3 linked regions of the Homo sapiens genome follow. The protein of the gene in region 1 purifies or fractionates together with the protein of each later gene. This does not show direct contact. Each region holds a gene or a part of one and is shown on either strand. Other genes may lie near its edges.

Region 1 (7,107 bases):
GGTTTTTTTTTTTTTTTTTTTTTTTTTTGAGACAGAGTCATGCTCTATCACCCAGGCTGGAATGCAGTGGTGCGATCTCAGCTCACTGCAACCTCCACCTCACGAGTTCAAGCGATTCTTCTGCCTCAGCCTCCCCAGTAGCTGGGATTACAGGCGCGCACTGCCATGTCCAGCTAATTTTTTGTATTTTTAGTAGAGATGAGGTTTTGCCATGTTTGCGAGGCTGGTCTCCGACTCCTGGCCTCAAGTGATCTGCCCACCTCGGCCTCCCAAAGTGCTAGGATTACAGGTGTGAGCCACTGTGCCTGGCCAGTATGTCAGTTTTTTAATTGAACTTGTACTTTCATTTCCACACAGAATATTATCCTAATGCAATATATTTAATGCTTGAAAATGTTATTCATTAGCCTACCATATTCTTCTGCAAGTAAAATTAATATAATAATTTAAACTTTTCAATTTTGTTGAGACTGAAACTTTTAATATTTTGTTTGAGATTATTATAATTATCTGTACACACTTGATAAAAGTAAATGCATTACACAGTTTTTGAGTAATTATACAAAAGTAAACATTTTTTGAAACATGAGATCTCAGTAGGATGTCACCCCCCACCCCCATCTGGATGGATAATACTGTCAGAATAAGACAAGTTCAGTACCACTTCTACTTTTTGTTTTTATGTACATGAATTCTGAGAAACTGTGTTCTCTTAAATAGTAGTTGGAGATGGGGTTATTTTTAAAATTTTAAATTTCTATTATAGATGGGATCTTACTATGTTGCCCAGTCTTATCTTGAACTCTTGGACTCAAGCAATCTTCCCACCTCAGCCTCTGAGTATCTGGGACACAGGTGCTCACCACCACTGTGCCTGGCACAGCGGGAGTTTTGGTAGAGCAGCATCACTGAATATTTTGATCTTCTTTTGGTTTATAAACCCAACGTCATGCAGTGATCTTTTATCAAAATTTTTGATGATGTTTCGGCTGACTGTTGATTACATCTGCATTCCGTTTCGTTGCAAGCAGAGATGTGGAAACTGCTGAACTGTAAAATAGCCTCTTATTGCCAGGTGATTCTGATGTAGTTGGCCTGGTGTAGGACCAAGGCATTAAGCTTTCTGAGCTCCCCAGGTGGGTTTGCTGTGGGTTAAGAACTGTGGTCATATCGTGTTTGTCCCCAAAAGCAGCTTCTGAATCATTTCCAGCCTGTGCCTTGCCTGCTTAAGATCCTCCAGAGGCCTTCTATTGTCTGTATCATAGTATGTCTCTACTAATCTGCAGTTTTAATCTGGGGTCATGAAGACTTTCCAAGGCCTGCGTAGTCCTGGAGGAGTCTGTTTCCAGGTCCTCCACTGTCTCATGTGCTCATTCCTGAAACCAGCCTCCCCGTGAACATGCTGGGAATGGGTGTGTGGGTTTTCCTTTCCCACCTCCCTCACTCAGTTGCCCTTCTGCTCTGAGGTCAGCCTCCCAACAGCCTGGTCTTTCTTCAGGGTGTTGTCCCCAGGTGCAGAAAACTCCTGGGCACCAAAGAGACCATTTGAAATCTGGTTTCTGGGCTGACTTTTGTACATGTGAGATATTTTTTTTTAAAGTTTTCAAATATATGAGGGCTATTTTAGTTATCTTTTAAAATTGTTTATTATTGTTAGATAGCTGATGGAATTGCATCATGGTCAGATTTTTTGGACGCGTTCTGTTTGTGCTTATGAATGTGGATTCTCTACTTGTTGACTACAGTGTGCCACGTAGGTTCTTTAGGTCAAACTTGCTTTCTGAGCTTCCCAGGTGGGTCTGCTGTGCAGCCAGGGTTAAGATTGAGTTCGGATCTTCTCTAGCTTTCCTCATGTTTTTGTCTGCTTGCTTTTATAAGTTACTAAGAGAGCTTTGTTAAAAATTTCTGTGTATGGCTGGGCAAGGTGACACGTGCCTGTAAGTGTCAGCTACTGGGGAGGCTGAGGCAGGAGGATTGCTTGAGTCAAGGAGTTCAAAACCAGCCCAGGCAGCATAGTAAGACCCCATCTCAAAAAAAAAAAAAGTGTTAAAAAAATTTCTGTATATGGATTTGTCTGCATCTTTGTAGTTCTGTCAGTTTCTGTTTTATATGTTTTGAGGCCAAATTAGGTACATACAAAAACTTAGATTTATTATATCTGTAGGTAAATGGAATCTTTTATCATTAAGAAGAACCCCTTTTTACATTTTGTTATGGGTATAGCTATAGAAGCTTGCTTTTTTTAAAAAAAAAACAACAACCGGTAATCAATTTATTAAAATAGTCAACTTTAAATATCTGCAATGGTGACTTCCACCTCAACTCCTGGCTCAATACTGATGGAAGTAATCTGCTTAATCTCAGAAGGACTGTGGAGGTCAGTGAGCCACTTGTGGATTCTCATCTGGAAACGATCCCGTGTGTTAGAACCTTCACAAGGAGTTTTTCTTGTGGTGATTCTCGAAGCCTTGATAGGCGTTCCAGCTGGTCTTTTCACTTTGAGATTCTTTTCCTTTGCTCCTCTGATCAAGTCAGCACACACCTTTTCTGGGGATTCTATGTTGCAGCTCATTAAAGTGATTCAGATTCAGTGAATTGTCACCTCTGGCTCCGCAGGTTTTCTTCAGGTATCTTTAAAGCCGTGGGTGGGCCGGGTGCGGTGGCTCACGCCTGTAATCCCAGCACTTTGGGAGGCCGAGGCAGGCAGATCACCTGAGGTCGGGAGTTCGAGACCATCCTGGCCAACACGGTGAAACCCCGTCTCTATTAAAAATACAAAAATTAGCTGGGTGTGGTGGCGGGCGCTTGTAGTCCCAGTTACTCTGGAGGCTGAGGCAGGAGAATTGCTTGAACCTGGGAGGCAGAAGTAGCAGAGAGCTGAGATTATGCCACTGCACTCCAGCCTGGGCGACAGAGCGAGACTGTCTCAAAAAATAAATAAATAAATAAATAAATAAATAAATAAATAAATAAATAAATGCATGCCATGGCTGCTGCGAGCCTTCCTGACCAACTTGTTCCTCAGCCAGAGCAAACAGTGGTGAGGCAGGAGCAGGAGCGGGCAGACCACAGCTCTGCAGCGCCTGTGGCCCTGTCTTCCTGAAGGAGCAGAAGCTTGCTTTTGGTTAGTGTTTGCATGATACATTTTTCCTGTCCTTTTACTTTTTCCCATTTCTTTATGTTTTAGCGTTTTCTCTTATAAATGGTATATTACTAGGCTTCAGGGGTGTTGTTTTTATGTTGTAAATGCATATAACATAAAATTTACCACTTTAACCCTTTTTACCTTTAAATCCATTAATTTATGAAACTATTTTCTTCAGTAGGCTACACATTGACATTGAAAGAGTGGCTTTTTTTTTTTTTTTTTTTTTTTAGACAGGGTCTTAATCTGTCACCTAGGCTGGAATGCAATGGTGTAATCACGGCTCACTGCAGCCTCGGTCTCCTGGGTGTGATCCTCCCACCTCAGCCTCCTGAGTAGCTGGGACTACAGGCGCACACCACCATGCCTGGCTAATTTTTTTTTTTTTTTTTTGGTAGAAGTAGGGTTTCACCATGTTGACTAGGCTGGTCGTGAACTCTGGGCTCAAGCAGTCCACCCACCTTGCCCTCCCAGAGTGCTGGGATTACAGGCATGAGCCACTGCGCCCAGCCTGACAATGGCATTTAAAAGATGTCATGGCTATGTAAAAAAATGTTTCCACTGTTGTACGTACACATCTGCACATGCAAGAAAATTTCTCAAATCTTTCTTCCTTTTCTTTTCTCTTCTCTTCTTTCTCTTCTTTTCTTTTCTTTTCTTTTTTTGAGACAGGGTCTCACTCTGTTGCCCAGGCTGGAGTGCAGTGGCGCGATCTCGGCTCACCACAACCTCTGCCTCCCGGGTTCAAGTGATTTTCCTGCCTCAGCCTCCCTAGTAGCTGGGACTACAGGCGCCCGCCACCGCACCCGGCTAATTTTTGTATTTTTAGTAGGACGAGGTTTCACCATGTTGGCCAGGCTTGGTCTTGAGCTCCTGACCTCAGGTGATCTGCCTGCCTCGGCCTCCCAAAGTGCTGGGATTACAGGTGTGAGCCACTGCATCTGGTCAAATTTCTCAAATATTTCTATTGTGATAAAATGTATGTAACACAGGCTGGGCGCGGTGGCTCACGCCTATAATCCCAGCACTTTGGGAGACCGAGGTAGGTGGATCACGAGGTCAGGAGATCAAGACCATCCTGGCCAACATGGTGAAACCCCGTCTCTACTAAAAATACAACTAATTAGCTGGTCATGGTGGCGTGTTCCTGTAATCCCAGCTACTCAGGAGGCTGAGGCAGGAGAATTGAACCAGGGAGGCAGAGGTTGCAGTGAGCTGAGATCACGCCACTGCACTCCACCCTGGCGACAGAGCAAGACTCTGTCTCAAAAAAAAAAAAAAAAAAAAAAGTAACAAAGCGTACCATTTTAACCAGTTTTTAAAATTAAAAAAAAATTTTTTTTTTTTTAGAGATGGGGGGGGTCTCACTTTGTCACGGAGGCTGGAGTGCAGTGGTGCAATCCTAGCTCATTGCAGCCTCGAACTCCTGGAGTCCAGTGATCCTCCTGCTTAGTGTCCTGAGTAGCTGGGATTACAAGGCATGTGCTATTGTGCCTGGCTAATTTTTTTTTTTTTAATTTTTTGTAGAGCTGGGGTCTCACTATGCTGCCCCGGGCTGGTCTCGAACTCCTGGCCTCAAGCAATCCTCCTGCCTTGGCCTCCCAAAGTGCTGGGATTACAGGCGTGAGCTACTGCGCCTGGCCCATTTTAACCATTTTTAAGTGTACAGGTCAGTGGCATTAAGTGCATTCACATTGCTGTGTAGCCATCACCACCGTCTGTCTCCAGAACTCTTTGCTCATCCCAACTGAAACTCTCTACCCATTTAACAATCACTCCCATCCCCACAGTCCCTGGTAACCACCATTCTACCTCATCTCTGTAAATTTGACTATTCTAGGCATCTCACATAAATGATAAATGGAGGCATACAATATTTGTCTTCTTTGACTTATTTTACTGAGCATATGTTGAACGTTCCTCCATACTGTAGTATATGTCAGTACTGCATTCCTTTTTGTTGCTGAGTAATATTCGTGTGTGTGTGTGTGTGTGTGTGTGTGTGTCTAGACCACATTCCGTGTATTCATCTATTCGTAATGGACACTTGGGTTGTTTCCATCTGTTGCCATTGTGAATAGTGCTGCAGTGAACATTGGTATACAAGTATCTGTTTGAATCCTACTTTCAGTTCTTTTGGGTATATACCCAGGAAGTAGAATCTCTGGATCATACGGTCATTCTATTTTTACTTTTTTGAGGACTACCAAACGGTTTTCTGTAGCAACTGCACCATTTTATATTCCCACCAGCAATGCACAAGGATTCCAATTTCTCCACATCCTTGCCAACATTTGTTATTATTTATTTATTTATTGAGATGAAGTCTCGCCCTGTCGCCAGGCTGGAGTGCAGTGGCGCGATCTCGGCTCGCTGGAACCTCTGCCTCCCGGGTTCAAGTGATTTTCCTGCCTCAGCCTCCCGAATAGCTGGGACTACAGGTGCCTGCCACCATGCCCAGTTAATTTTTTTAATATTTTTAGTAGAGACAGGGTTTCACCGTGTTAGCCAGGACGGTCTCCATCTCTTGACCTCGTGATCTGCCCGCCTTGGCCTCCCAAAGTGCTGGGACTACAGGCATGAGCCACCGCGCCCGGCCTAGGGTTTTTTAATATATTCTAGATATTAATCCCTTATCAGATATGTGATTTGCAAATATTTTCTCCTATTCTGTGGGTTGTCTTTTCACCCTCTTGATCATGCTCTTTGATGTACAAAAATTTTAGTTTTAGTGAAGTACAATTTATCTTTTTTTTTTTTTTGTCTGTGCTTTTGGTGCTATATCCAAGAAATCTTTACTAAATCCAGTGTCATGAACATTTTTTCCCTAGATTTTCTTCTAAGAGTTTTAAAGGGTTTTTTTGTTGGTTTGTTTATTGTTTTTTGAGGCAGGGTCTCATTTTATTGCCTAGGCCGGAGTGCAGTGGCGTGAACACGGCTCACTGCAGCCTTGACCTCTCCAGCTCAAGTGATCCTCCTGCCTCAGCCCCACAAGTAGCTGGGACTACAGGCATGCGCAGTCAGGCCCAGCTAATTTTTGTATTTTTTTGTAGAGACAGGTTTTCACCGTGTTGCCTGGGCTAGTCTTGAACTTCTGCGCTCTGGTGATCCACCTGCCTCAGCCTCCCAAAGTGTTTCAGATTACAGGTGTGAGCCACTGCAACCGGCCAGGTTTGAGCTCTTAAGTTTAGATCTCTGATCTTTATATACTTATTATTATTTTTTTTTATAGAGATGGAGTCTTGCTGTGTTGCCCAGGCTGGTCTTGAACTCCTTGGCTCAAGCAAACCTCCCATGATGGCCTCCCAAGGTGCTGGGACTACAGGTATGAGCTACTGCACCTGGCCTCTTTACTTTTCAAATTAAACTTTTTATTTTGACATAATTATAAATTCACATGCCGTTGCAGGAAATAATACAGAGATCCTAGGTGCCCTTGGGTTTTGTTTTTTTATTTAGCATTTAGTCCATTTACATTTAATGAAATATGATACATTTGGGTTTAATCTGCTATCTTACTCTATATATTCAAATTGCCTATTCTCTGTTCATTTTTCTCTCTAGTCTTCTTTTAGGTTAATTTTTATTATCCTATTTTTCCTCTTCTATTAGCTTGAAAGTTATATGCTCTTTTCTCAGTTTTAAGTGGTCACCCTAGAATTTAAAGCAGGCATTCATGTTGTACCAAAGACTAATGATAATGTGTACTTTACCTTCTTCCTGGACAGTGCAAGGATCCTAACACACTTTAACTCCATTTATTGTTGTCATTTGTTTTAATTATTTCTGTTTTAAATCACACAACCCATTGTTTTGTGCAGTCAGATATTTAGATTTTCACCCTTATAGTCACTGTATTTGTTGTTCTTCGTTCCTTCTGGAATCTGACTTTACATCTGGATGGGGATCATTTTCTTTCTCCCTGAAGAATGAAAGTGTGAGTCTGCTAATGAATTCTTTTG
Region 2 (7,107 bases), on another chromosome or scaffold:
GTACTGACCCAGCTGACAGGGCCCAGACCAGGGCCGTCCACTCACCGGGTGGACACGGAGTAACGTTCCGGCTGAAAGGAGCAGTTCCGGCCGGCCACAGAGATCCTCTGGATGTCCCCTGCTTGGACGCCCAAATTGGACCCCAGGATGGTGATGCGGATGCCCCCACCCAGGGGGCCCGTCTCAGGCTGGATCTGAAACCACAGAGCCGGGTGAGCAGGGAGGGGCTCATGCCAGGGACGAGGGAAGGTGTAGGCCAGGCTTCGAGGGGCTCACCCTGGTGATGACGGGCGGCGGGCACTCGGAGGTGGTGTTGCACAGGGCCTCATACACGCACCTGCTCTGGCCCCCGCACCACGCACACCTGTAGTCGGGGTTAGCGGCCCGGCACAGGCTGCAGTCGCTGCGGCCAAAGGAGCAGTTGTAGAGGGTCACTGCGGGGAGAGCTGCCGTCAGTGGTCACCCCGTGCCTGCCCGCCCCCGACCTGCTCCCCACTGCGCCCACCTGTCCCCCCACCCACCGCCTTGTGCCCACCCGTCCCCTGCCCGCCCCCCACTGCGCCCGTGGCCCCCACCATGGAGCTTGCTGTCGATATTCTTGCCGTAAGACTTGACGTAGAGGTGCAGGGGCAGCGTCTCGTTGGCATCGTGGGACAGCTGGGGGACACGCAGGGGCACACTGCACTTCCTGCCCCCACAGAGGGGCGTGGGGCGGGGGTCACAAGGGCAGCCTCCCTGTGGCCACCGGGTCCCTTCCCAGCCAAGGGCAGCAGGGGAGGCCTTCAGGTGTCGGAAGTTCGGGAACCCCATGGACGCTGCTCTGTGCCACTCTGTCCCCAGGGAGGCAGAGGGCAGAGGGGGCTTCCCCAGCAGCACAGGGCATGGCGAGCCCCTGGCTGGGCTCTGGTCCCTGGGGTCTCCCTGCTGCCCCTCCCCTCACAGTCCTGAAGGTGACCCCCCACCCCACCCGGGGCCCTGGGGTCCAGCAGCCGAGCCGGCCTGCCCTGGAGCCGTACCTTTGGGGTCCGAAAGGCGAAGGTCCCAGATTCCTGCATGGTCACCGGCTCCATGAACTTGAGCAAGTCACTGCCCACGTGCAGGGAGGAACCCTGCAGACCATGCCGTCAGGACCCTGGACAGGCGGCTGTGGCACCCTGGCCCTCCTCCCAGAACCCCTGCAGCCCCTCCTCTGTGCCTACAGTGTGGGAGCCCTCTCCTCACCCCACACATGCCCGCCCCTCAGATTACCATGCCAGCTGACCCCTCGGCCACTCCTGAGCCCAAACACCTGTGTCTGCAGAAGCCTCTGAACGTCCTCTGTGGGTTTCCCACGGCCACCTCCACCACTCATCCACACCTGAGAACATCGCCCGGCCCACCTGACATCGTGGCCCCCACAGCTCCCTCCTCAGGAGGTGGCACTGGCCCCTCAATCTCCACACGCCTGCCTCCTCCACTGCCTCTCTTCAGGCCCATCCAAAGGCCCCCGAGTGCTGCCTCCTGGCCTCTGTCCCCGATAAATCCTGTGCCCTCTACCTCATGTGGGGGCCCCGAGTCGGGGGGCACGGGTGGAGCTCAGGCTTCCCACACACCCATCAGCACTGGCCGGCACCCCTCCCTCCGTACCTTAGCCTGCCTGTCACCAACCGGCACCCCCTCCCTCCGCACCTGAGCCTGCCTGTCACCGGCCGGCACCCCTCCCTCCGCACCTGAGCCTGCCTGTCACCAACCGGCACCCCCTCCCTCCGCACCTGAGCCTGCCTGTCACCGGCCGGCACCCCTCCCTCCGCACCTGAGCCTGCCTGTCACCGGCCGGCACCCCTCCCTCCGCACCTGAGCCTGCCTGTCACCGGCCGGCACCCCCTCCCTCCGCACCTGAGCCTGCCTGTCACCAACCGGCACCCCCTCCCTCCGTACCTGAGCCTGCCTGTCACCGGCCGGCACCCCTCCCTCCGCACCTGAGCCTGCCTGTCACCGGCCGGCACCCCTCCCTCCGCACCTGAGCCTGCCTGTCACAGCCGGCACCCCTCCCTCCGCACCTGAGCCTGCCTGTCACCGGCCGGCACCCCTCCCTCCGCACCTGAGCCTGCCTGTCACAGCCGGCACCCCTCCCTCCGCACCTGAGCCTGCCTGTCACCGGCCGGCACCCCTCCCTCCGTACCTGAGCCTGCCTGTCACCGGCCGGCACCCCTCCCTCCGCACCTGAGCCTGCCTGTCACCAGCCGGCACCCCTCCCTCCGCACCTTCACGGTGTCCAGGTTCTTGCCCTGGAAGTTCACATCTGTCTCGTGGTTCATGGGGATCACCAGGGGGCTGGGTCCCAGGAACTGGGGACAGCTGTCCTCCTGGGAGAGTAAGGCTGGTCAGGTGCTGCCTGGGCACAGCGGAGCAGCCATGCCCTGAACAGTCCCCTGAGGCCCCGAGGCCCCTCACCATGTGGGCACGGACGATGCCGTCCTCAGGGTTGGGCGAAGCCTCCCGGCACTCGTGGTAGCGCAGGTCCCACTGGCAGGTCCAGCGGTTGCTCACGCAGGAGATGCACCTGCATCCAGAGGGGATCGTGAGCAGGGCTGGGGTGGACGGGCAGGGTGGGGTCGATGGGCACAAGACACTCACGGCAGGTTCTCCTCCAGGCTCATGGCCTGGCGGCAGTCGTAGAAGGGGTACTGGTAGGACGTGAGGAAGATGTTGCCTCGTCTAAGGAGGAGCTGGATGGTCACGGCCACGTGGTCTGCAGACAGCAGAGGGGGAGGTGTCAAGGTGGCGGCCGCAGGGCCGAGGGCCAGGCTGGGCCTCCCCTGGGGCTGACTCCTGGGGCCAAGGTGGAGACCCCTGGTCTTCAGGGGGCCCTGCCAGGACGCCCCGCATTCATGTTGGGCGGGGCCTGCCACCTGCTATCAGATCTCGGGTGGGGCTGCCAGGACGCCCGTTCACGCTGGGCTGGACCTGCCACCTGCTATCAGATCTTGGTTCGGGTGTCGGGCGCAGCACCGGGCTTGCCTTTCTCCCCCGGGTCCAGGTTGCTTTCATACCCTCTGTTCCCGCAGGCACTGAGGGCAGCGGCTCCTTGGAGTCTGAGTGGGACCTGCCAGGTCCCTGCCCACGTCACTGCGTGGCCCCACTGCCCCCAAAACTCAGGGGACATGGGCGCGACGCCTGCCCTGGCCCACATGCGAGGCCCTGCAGCCTCTGGGAACGGCCCTGCTCTCTGAAGCTGGACATGGCAGGAAGGGGTGAGGGGCGTCTGCCGAGACGACGGGGCCTGGCGCCTGGCACCCACATGCCGCTCCGGACGTGATGAGGGAGCAGGCTGAAGACAAGTCACCTTTGCTACAGGCCTGGGGGGCGTGGCTGCGGACAGCCCAAGAAGCCAGAACCTCCCCAACAGGCACAGCAACCCCACCACAGGCTTCATTCAGGCTGGGCCCCCGGAGCAGCCGCGGAGTGTGCCTGTGCAGAGCCTGCACCCAGGGGCCAGCAGAGGCGAGAGCCCGTGTGCACAGGGCCCCGTGCGACCGAGAAGGGCCACCCGGGGGCTCGGGAAGGGGCCTCACCCTGGCCTGGCGGTGTGACGGGGATGCTGCTTGGGGAGTTGCAGATGACGGCCTCGCCCTCCACGCGGGCGGGGTGTGGCGGCGACTCCCCAAAAAGGCACAGCAACTCGTCCTCCTCGCTCAGGGCAGGGAGGGGGCTGACGGTCAGCTGCACCTGAGGGAGGGGCCGTGCCGCTCACACTGGGAACCCCGAGTCCTGTCAGCCCACCTGCCGGTGACCCGACCTCCCTGCGTGTGTGGGCGCACGTCCCAGTGGAGCCTCCAGAACCCGACTCCACGTCTTCCAATACAGGCCTCTCTGTGGTCACCCCAGCAACTCCTGGGACAGGGCCTGAGTCCACCCTGGATATGGACAAGCCCCACCCCTGCCCGCCCAGGTCATAGGGGTCCAGGGGACCAATGGAGGGCGGGCTCCATCCCTAAGGCTCGGTGCCCAGAGCCCAGGCGGGGGAGATGTGGAGCCCTCCCCTGCCTGTCCCAACAGCTCCCAGCATGGGGGAGCCCCCACCTGGCCCGGCCTGGGGCCCAGGACCCCCACCCCAGACCCACCACGCACCTCCCCCTGGGCCCGCCGGCTCATGTTCTGTGGCTGGGCGCTGGTGACGGCCACGCAGGACTTGCTTCGGCTCCACAGCCAGTGGCTGGCCTCCTCGGCCCGCGGACACTCGGCCTTCCGGGTGCATCTGCAGGCGCAGGGGGCGGCCTCAGCCCAGGGTGGAGTCTTGTTCTCCCGGGACAGGACAGTGCGATGTGCCCCCCGACCCAGGCCACGACCTTCCGGGATCCCAGAGGCAGGCCGTGTCCCCGAGCCACCCCAGGCACTCACCGTCCCTCGACGACGCACCAGCCGCAGTAGGGGTCCTGGGAGTCGCGGCACTGGGTGCAGGTCGGGTAGCTCAGGCACTCCTGCACCGGCAGCCGGAACACCTAGGGCAGCGGGGCCGTGAGTGGGACCACAGCAGAGGCCGCACGGGCCTTCCGCAGACCCCAGATGTCCCCAGACCGCCAGCTTGACCCAGCTCTGTCCCGGGGCCTCGGGAGCCTCAGACACCTCAGGCTTGATATTAAACAGTTCTGGCTCTGGGTGGCCATGCCTGGCCCAGGATCCCGATGGGAGCCCAGGGAAGCCTGGAGGTCTTGGCTATGGTGTCTCCCGGGGCAGCTCCTGTCCTCTACACTGGCTCCCTCCGAGGGGTGCTCCTAGGGCTGGCCTGAGGGTCTCTGGCACTAACCCCCCACAAGCTTGGGGCCCAGGCCCATGTTCTCCACTGACTGAGCTCACATGGGCTGTGCAGGGACCCCGTCTTCCCATCCACCCTCAGCAACACGCCTCAGACACCAACCCAGGTCCCTTCCATCAGGACAGGGCAGAGGCGGGGCCAGAGGGAGAGACATGGTTGAGACCACAAAGGACAAACAGAAGGAGCGGCAGAGACGGGGCAGTGCTAGAGAGACACAGGATGGAGGCACTGCCCGGGACCCACCCAGCCACCCCTCATCCAGACCAAGGAGAAGGGCCCAGCTCTGCAGCACCCCATCCTCCTCTGGCCCCCAGGCCTGTCCTAAGGGCCTGGGATGCAATGACCGGGCACACTTGGCCTAGAGTGCTCTCCGGGGCTGCGTCTGGCTCACCTTGTCCTGGGTCATGGCGTACAGGCTGCCCAGGTCTCCAGACAGTACCAGGTCGCGCTTGACTCTCTTGTTTATCTCCACAAGGATAGAGTCGTACTCTGAGGAGGTGCCATCTGGGGTGAGGTACACCTGTGTGCGCGAGGGCAGGCCGGTGAGGGTACGGGCCTTGTGCACAGACGGGCCCTCCAGAGCCTCCCCGCCCCAGCCTGGGCCAAACCTTGAGGATCCGGCCATCAGAGGTGCCCAGAAAAGCAACAGTGTGGTTGTTCTCGGCGGCGACCGTCACGGCCGTGAGGTTCAGGCCTCCACGCTGCAGCACGGCTGTGCCTCTGAGCCCGTCGCGGCTGCCCAGCGGGTAGGGCAGGTGCTCCGAGCCACATGGGAAGCTCTTGCTGGAGCCCTGCGGACCACAGCGTGTCAATGGCAGGCAGACCCCCTGTCCTGAAGGGCCCTCTCCACTCGCGCTCCAAGACTCGGGACAGGCCCTTCCCTTCCCTCCGGCACACGTCCTACACACGTCCCCGAGAACAGAACCCACATGGCAGGGAGCCCCACCGTGCTCACTGTTGTGTTCCCCAGTGCCCGACACAGGCCTGGGACTGGCGCCAGCGTGAATGGCATTGAGAGATGCGGCACCCACCCACGCAAGCGCCCAGGCTGGCGAGAGCCACGGCCACACTGCTCACGTGCACCCTCCCCAGCAGGCTGGGACACGCAAACCCACGAACGGACGCCTGCAGTCCGGGCCCTGCGAGAACACACTGAGGCCCATACCGGCGCGTGGCCGCCGCACTGGATATCGCCGTGGAAGGGCTTGTAGAAGATGTCACGGGCCTCCCGGGTGCCTGTGTAACAGGCGTTGCGGTTGGCCTCCATCTTGGCGTGCACCTTGTCCAGCGGGAACAGGCAGAGGCCCGCACCGGGCCCCCCACTGCTCCGGCTGTCTCTGCTGAAGACAGCATATAGCACCCTGCCAGAGCCAGGCGCAGCCACGGAGGCGGCCAGGCAGGTGCCAAAGGCAGCGGCGTGGATGTCGGGGTCCCGGCACTGCAGGTCCATCTCCAGGTAGGAGTAGTAGTTGGGGTCTTCTCTGCACATGCGTGCCAGCAGCGTGCGGTTCCGGGCCGGGTGCTTGTCCTGCTGGTTGAAGACAAAGAAGACGTAGGGGCCGTCCTCGAAGGCCGCCACGAACTGCTGTGTGTTGGTGGACAGGTAGCCGGCCTTGTAGGTGGCGTGGTCCGTGTAGGCTTCAAAGGCCTCCCTGCTGTCAGTCCGGTCCAACAGCCGAGTGCTCACGATGATGCCGTTGTCGTGTGGCCCATTGCCTTTGCCCACAAACAGCACGCGGTCACCACCAGGACCCGTGGAGCTCACCAGCCCCACTGTGGCCACGCCCTCATCATTGCTGGCCACGAAAGACTTCTCCCCGCTGCCGTCCTCGTAGAACAGGCGGAGGGAGATGTTGCTCAGGGCGCGCAGAGCGCAGATGCCCTTGAAGAGGCTGCCGCACTCCACCAGGCGCTTCCTGGGAGGGTCGAGCAGCAGCAGCTGGTTGACATTGTCAGTCATCTCAGCCTCATGGCACTGGCTGGCCTCGATGGGCGGCGTGCACTTCTTGTTGTCCAGGGCCGGGCCCGTGGCCACCTGCTGCTCCAGCTGCAGCTTCGCATCCAGCTGGTAGAGGGCATTCACCGCCCCCAGGTACACCACGCCTGAGGCCTCATCCACAGCCAGGTGGTTCAGCTCTTTCTCGCTGCGGAAGAAGTCCAGCTTGCGGGGCCTCAGGCTGGCACCTGCGCCCAGCAGGCCCAGCAGGGTCAGGGCCCAGAGCTGCAGTGCCATTGCCCCCCGCACCCTGTGGGAAGAGAGAAGGGTCAGGGGAGCCCCGACCCAGAGGACCCCCGATCAAATCCCTCTCCAG
Region 3 (7,107 bases), on another chromosome or scaffold:
GTAGCCTCCAACTCCTGCACTCACACGATCCTCCTGCTCAGCTTCCTGAGTAGCTGGGATGACAGGCATGAGCCACCACTTAATGGCTAACTTAAAAAAATTTTTTTGTAGAGACAAGTTCTTGCTATGTTTCCCAGGCTGGTCTTGAAATCCTGGACTCGAGTGATCCTCCCACCTGGGGCTCCCAAAGTGCTGGGATTACAGGTGTGAGCCACTGCGCCTGGCCTGTGGTTTTTTATATCAATTGTATGGAATCTGAGTTTGATCTCACCTCTAGTCTAGAGCAGTGGCTCTCAGGTTTTAGTGTGCAACGGTATCATCTGGAAGGCTTGTTGAAAAATAGACTGGTGGGCCCATCCACAGAGTCTATGACTCAGTAGGTCAGGAGTTGGGGCCGAGGACCTGCATTTTGAATAAGTTATCAGGCAAGGGCTGATGCTGCTGATACAAGGAGGGCACTTTTGAGAAACACTGCTCAAGAGAAGTTCTTGATTGTACATAAATGCATTTTGCAGCTAAATATACACTGAATAGCCTTTAACACAAATTGTGGCTTCATTTAGCAAAAAAAAGAGTTTCACATAAATAACTACAGGCTAGCCTCTGGCTAGGAAGAAATCTCATTAGAGCTTTATACCTTTGATAAAAGAAAAACAAATGTTATTACCACAGCAATACATACTGAGTAGGAAAATCAATCAGAACAAAGACCTTTCAGAAGTCAGGGGTTATTTTCCCAGTTCACTGTTTAACCTTTTTTAAGCACCTGCTTCTGCAGAGTTTGATGACTCTAACTATTAATATATCTGCTTTCCTTGAAGCTGCAGGGAAATAGGGGATATTTTTTTCTTATCTTGCAAGCTCTTTATCCAGAAATTTAAAGGACTGTAACCTTTAAGAACAATATGGCTGGGCACAGTGGCTCACACCTGTAATCCCAGCACTTTGGGAGGCCAAGGTGGGCAGATCACCTGAGGTTGGGAGTTCGAGACCAGCCTGGATGACAAGGCGAATCCCCGTTTCTACTAAAAATACAAAAATTATTTGGGTGATGTGGTGGACACCTGTAATCCCAGCTACTTGGGAGGCTGAGGCACAAGAATCACTTGAACTGGGGAAGGGGAGGTCGCAGTGAGCCAAGATCGCACCACTGCACTCCAGCATGGGCGACAGAGTGAGATTCTGTCTCAAAAAAACAAAAAAAAGTAAAATTAAATAAATGCAAAATGTGTATGAAAGTGCTTTGCAAAATACAGAGTATAATACTGACATATATGAAGCATTGTCAAAATTACTAAACTTAAAAAAAGAAGAACTTGTCAGATACCATTTTAGCTTCAGTTTCAATGATTCAGTAGTCACACTGTTGAGCTATGACTCAGTCAACGAACATTTTACAAAGTACTGGGGATGCTGTGCTACATATGGGGATTCGTCATGCACATGCTTCTGAGTTGCACAGCGGTAACTACACACACCCTTGTCCCCACAGAATGTTCAGACTTATGTATTTATAAGTTAAATGGCTACAAACCTTCATTTTAAAGACCGGCTGGAATTCTTTCAGAGCAGATAATAATTTAATTTGAATCGAGGCTCTTTCGGCTTCTTTACCATCTGCAAAAACATCAAAGAGGGCATCCAAAGCTTCTCCTGCTACCACAAGGGAAGGATCTTTGGTGGTAACTTCAAGCAGAAAGCACCCAATGTTCTGGAAACAACAAAACACATTTAGTATGACTAACACCAGTCTCCAAAACAAGTACCAACTTTGAATGTGGCAATAACTCATGCATACTATTTTATATACAAATGCCAGGGAAAAATTAAAACTTCAAGAGATTAGACTTAAATACTTATAAACATACCAAGTATAAGCAAGATAAATTAAACATATTATAGTTTATATTCATAAATAAAGTGAATTAAAATCCATAAATGATGTATGATTTTGGAAATCACTAAATTTTCCCCTCTACCTCTCTCAAAAAGGATTTCTCCATGATGTCAAGATGCATAGAAATATTATCTGTAACAACAACGACAACAACAAAAAATCTGCTTTTAAAAGCATAAGAAAAACACTTTAGGCCAGTTGCAAGTGGCTCACACCTGTAAGTTCAGAACTTTGTGAGGCTAAGGCGGGAGGGTCGCTCGAGCCCAGGAGTTCAAGACCAGCCTCGGCAATGGAGCAAGACCTCATCTCTAAAAAACGTAAAATAGGACTGATCTGAATCGAATCTAGTCTGTAGATCTAACTGTCAGTTTGTAGGAAATACAAGGATAAAAAAACAAATTTACCACCACAAGGTAGCAATCAGACAAATCCAGAAGGTTTTGGACACTATATTGGACAACTGATCCAGGAGGTGAGAATAACCACGTGGTGCCGGGGAGGAACTGTTCAAGATTAAGAGAGAAAGAGAAGACCCCACAGGAAACATAACATGTGGACTTCAGCAGTGTAAACAAGCTCTCTGTAAACAGATAATTTTGAGGCAACTGTAAAATTATGAATATGGACCAGGAATTAGACACACTAAGAAATAACTGTTGCCGGGTGCAGTGGCTCATGCCTGTAATCCCAGCACTCTGGGATGCTGAAGTAGGTAGATCGCTTGAGCCCAGGAGTTCAAGACCAGCTTGGCCAACATGGCGAAACCCCATCTCTATTAAAAATACAAAAATTAGCCAGGTGTGGTAGTGGGCACCTGTAATCCCAGCTACTCGGGAGGCTGAGGCAGAAGAATTGCTTGAACCCAGAGGCGGAGGTTGCAGTGAGCCGAGATCACACTACTGCACTACTGTACTCCAGCCTGGGTGACTGAGACTCCATCTCAGAAAAAAAAAGAAAAAAAAAAAAGCTTTGCAAGTATCATTTTTCAAAAATAGATTCTTAAAAACATCAGTCATCATTGTAAAGTTCTTAGCAGGTTAAGAGGTACTTTATAATAATGAGTTTATTATCCACTAGTCTCACACTTCAGCAATTATTAGCACACCAAAGTGTAATGTTACTATGACTGTCCTTTTAATTACTAGTGACGCTGTACTCCTAACAGTGCAGTTTGTGAGCAACTGTGCTAAGTGGTAAGAGCAAATATGCTGAGGGAATTGCTAGTATATTGGCACTACCAGGGTTGCTGCTTAAAATTTATGGAGTGGTATTAGAATTAATTAACTGTGTTGTATTTTTCAGAATGCATGTTGCCTGGTGTGCAAGGAAAATGGTGTGGATTGTTCATTCATCAGCAGGAGAATGTAACATGCATACATTGGATGCAACAGCAAAGGCAGAAGGCATCTTTAAAAATTCTGAATTTGCCCTTTCACTAAAGACAGATTTATTTTTTTAAAAAAGTACCTCTGGAATAACGTTAAATTGTAAAATGTGGCTCAACTTTTCAAATACTTACCTAATTAATACACATAGTTAGATCAAGCCAAAGGGTATATTCTAATAATATGACTCAATAAAGCAACTTGATATGACTTCTTCTCTTCAAGTCCACACAAGTTTTAAGAAATCCTACACCAACAGTTCTTCTCCCATTTCTAATTATTTAACATGTTAGGTCAGAAGCAAATTGTTTTACCTTAAGAGTTTCAAGTGTACCATCTTCTTTGGCAAGGACGCTGCCAGTGATTCCTAAAATGCTAACGACATTCACTCTAACCCCGACATTACTACTATGAATGCCTGCTTTGCATAATGTCATCAGCTGATCAGGAGTCATGCACTGTTAAAAGAGAAGAGGACAGTATTTATAATGTTAAACTCAATTAATTCTATCAGCATGTGAAAACCGGACTGACAGGAATCTCCTCTATAGGCTACAGGATTTTAAGAGTGACATAAACTCCTGGCAGGTAAGTTACTATTAATATGTATTCCAGTTCTCCCAGACAGAGCTGGTAATTCTGAACTAAGGTGAACCCTGCTCATGTCGGCACTGTTATCTAATATCAAAGGGGCTCCATTTAATTTGATGAAGACTTTCATTCCAGATGTACACACACTAAAGAGAGTCCAATTCCTTTTTAATATTAATGGTAAGAAAAAGGCTTTGAAAGTATAAATAGGATTGTGTGGTTTTAAAAAAATTGGCTGAGTCTATACAAGGTAAGAACTTACTTTGAGATATCTGTATTATCATAATTAAAGACTGTAGAAACCATTACATTATATGGTGCTTCTACCATGTAGTGGATAATTTTCAGTTTAAGGCTGGGCGCGGTGGCTCACGCCTGCAATCTCAGCTACTCAGGAGGCTGAGGCACAAGAAACGCTTGAACCTGGGAGACAGAGGTTGCAGTGAGCTGAGATTGTGCCACTGAACTCTAGCCTGGGCAACAGAGTGAGACTATCTCCTATAAGCAGCAGCACAGTGTAGTGATGAAAGGCTTGGAATCTGGAGCCAGACACAAAGGCTTGGAATCTGGAGATTGAACCCTGGGTTCAAATCCTAGCTTCACTACTTATCACTCGTGTGAGCCCCTACACTAGACTAATGTATTTTTATTTTTTGTAGACATGAAGTCTCACAAAGTTGCCCAGGCTGTTCTTGAACTCTTGGGCTCAAGCAATCCTCCCGCCTCAGGCTCCCAAAGTGTTAGGATTATTAGTATGAGCCACTGCACCTGGCCCTGAACATGGGCTTTGAGTAATTTTCCTTAACCATCACACTGATCCCATAAGCTGCTGCTTACATACCAGGGGAAATCAATAAAAATACTTGATATTCCTATAGGCCCTAGAGTATAAGGTTTTCTGGTCCATCCAACAGCCACATGGCAGGCTATGCATCCCATTACCATTCCTACTTCTTAGAAACTGAGGGTCAAATTATGCTCTTCAAAAAAATTCTTAGCTTTGGAAAGCTGAGGCAAGAGGATCACTCGAGAGCAGGAGTTTAAGACCAGGCTGGGCAACATAGCAAGACCTCATCTCTATTAAAAAACTAAAAAATAAAAATAAAGTATAAAAAAATTTTAAAAGCATTAAGAAAAAAATTATATAAAGAAGCAAAAAGAAATAGTGTTATTGGCAATAACAAGAGCATTGTTATTTTGATACTATTAAGTACATTCCGTAGGATAAAGCAAATAATAGTTTTAATGTCACTACAATTTTAATGTTACTACAGCAAACAATTTTAATATCACTGTATAGCAAATAATTTTAATGTCTTTTAATGTCACTACTACAAAGTACATTCTGTAGGAGAAAGCAAATAATAAAATTTTTGAAAAATATTTTTCTTTCTTTTCTCTAATTTTAATTTTTAAATTATTTATTATTATTATTATTTTTGAAACGGAGTATCGCTCTGTCGCCCAGGCTGGATTACAGTGGCCCGATCTTGGCTCACTGCAAGCTCCGCCTCCTGGGTTCACACCATTCTTCTGCCTCAGTCTCCTGAGTAGCCAGAACTACAGGCACCCGCCACCACACCCGGCTAATTTTTTGTATTTTTTAATAGAGACGGGGTTTCACTGTGTTAGCCAGGATGGTCTTGATCTCCTGACCTTGTGATCCGCCCACCTCGGCCTCCAAAACTGCTGGGATTACAGGCGTGAGCCACCGTGCCCGACCTATTTATTATTATTTTTAAAGCCAGTCAAACTTAGCGTGGGGGGTTGTATACCAACTTCAGTGACACTAATGTTAATAAGTCCTGATAACCCACTACCATCAGACCAGCTGCAAATAAGAATTTTAATGTCACTAATGTATCTTTTTGGGTACAATGTACCTTTTTGGGTACAAATGTATCTTTTTGGGGGATACAAAAAGATAGAAATACAAAATCGAAAATTAAGTAAAAATATTGTACCATTTTTTATTTAAACTGGAAATTATCAGGATAAACTTACTATTTTTGTCTCCTAAAAAAATGCCTATTTCCTAGCTATTTCCACTAAAAAGACCTAGAAACAATGGCAACATGATAGCAATAAGCACTCCACAATTCACTTTCCCCACTAAAGAAATCAGAGCTTCTTGGAGAAGTAACTAATTCCAGGGTTTTTTTTTTTTTTTTTTGAGACGGAGTTTCACTCTTGTCACACTCTTGTCACCCAGGCTGGAGTGCAGTGCAATCTTGGCTCACTGCAACCTCCACCTCCTGGCTTCAAGCGATTCTCCTGCCTCAGCCTCCCAAGTAGCTGGGATTACAGGCGCGTGCCACCACACCCAGCTAATTTTTGAATTTTCAGTAGAGACGGAGTTTCGCCATGTGGGTCAGGCTGGTCTCAAACTCCTGACCTCAAGTGATCCGCCCACCTCAGCCTCCTAAAGTGTTGGGATTACAGGCATGAGCCACTGTGCCTGGCCAGATTCCAGGTTTTAAGCAAGAAAATTACAAATTGAACCTGGGACATCCTATGCCTGGAAGCAAAAGTGATCAAAAACCTAAAATTCTTGTAAAAGAGGCACAGGAGCCAATTTGAAGGGACTCCTACTATCCAAAGATGGGATGAATTTGGCAGCAAAAAGCATGACTATAATGGAATGAAATACAAATATATAAAAAACCCTGAGTTCAAAATGATACTAAAAAAAAAAAAATCACTGGTCACTTATAGAGATTGCTAGGATAGCTATTCTGAAAAAAAAAAAAATCATAGCTAATAAATGTAAAAAAAAAAAAAAGAAAAGACAAAATTAGGGTATCTCTATTCTGCAACCCACTAATGACATAATGGAGCCAGGCAACCACAATCACTGGTTATAAAACCATTATGTGAACCCACTAATTAATCTCAGCATCACTATTTTATAATATCATATGATTTGTGATATAAATATAGGAAATATATAAAGCACTATAAATTATTCTTGCCAAAAAATCTGGACCTGTCTAGATTATTTATTATAAATACAAAAAATAAATAAATAAATAATCTGGACCTGGATCTAATTAAGGCTCTAGACCTAGCTCCCGGCTCACAGGAAACATGGGGGACAGAGGAATGCTGAACGATGCCATCATGATGAGTTGGCCAAATCTGCCAGTGCAGAAAATGCTACGGAACAAAATGAGAGTTTCTTCAATGGGTAAGTGTATGGGGAAAGGAGGGGAGTGAGGGAAATGCTATAGACTA

What was found.
Region 2: the proteins of LMAN2 (region 1) and PLXNB2 purify together in Homo sapiens (affinity purification with mass spectrometry; 3 studies listed by BioGRID and IntAct, with this or other methods). This does not show direct contact.
Region 3: the proteins of LMAN2 (region 1) and HEATR3 purify together in Homo sapiens (affinity purification with mass spectrometry; 3 studies listed by BioGRID and IntAct, with this or other methods). This does not show direct contact.

Annotation. Positions count from the first base shown.
Region 1 is NC_000005.10:177,341,609-177,348,715, reverse strand, and holds part of LMAN2 (vesicular integral-membrane protein VIP36 precursor), read left to right. Parts: intron 1-7,107. UniProt on the Homo sapiens protein: Plays a role as an intracellular lectin in the early secretory pathway. Interacts with N-acetyl-D-galactosamine and high-mannose type glycans and may also bind to O-linked glycans.
Region 2 is NC_000022.11:50,283,557-50,290,663, forward strand, and holds part of PLXNB2 (plexin-B2 isoform 3 precursor), read right to left. Parts: intron 7,042-7,107; coding exon of another isoform or gene 7,029-7,041; coding exon 5,961-7,028; intron 5,587-5,960; coding exon 5,404-5,586; intron 5,316-5,403; coding exon 5,187-5,315; intron 4,482-5,186; coding exon 4,381-4,481; intron 4,238-4,380; coding exon 4,111-4,237; intron 3,709-4,110; coding exon 3,555-3,708; intron 2,732-3,554; coding exon 2,617-2,731; intron 2,543-2,616; coding exon 2,434-2,542; intron 2,346-2,433; coding exon 2,244-2,345; intron 1,358-2,243; coding exon of another isoform or gene 1,289-1,357; intron 1,110-1,288; coding exon 1,017-1,109; intron 658-1,016; coding exon 576-657; intron 435-575; coding exon 277-434; intron 195-276; coding exon 46-194; intron 1-45.
Region 3 is NC_000016.10:50,096,863-50,103,969, reverse strand, and holds part of HEATR3 (HEAT repeat-containing protein 3), read right to left. Parts: intron 3,741-7,107; coding exon 3,597-3,740; intron 1,712-3,596; coding exon 1,535-1,711; intron 1-1,534. UniProt on the Homo sapiens protein: Plays a role in ribosome biogenesis and in nuclear import of the 60S ribosomal protein L5/large ribosomal subunit protein uL18 (RPL5). Required for proper erythrocyte maturation.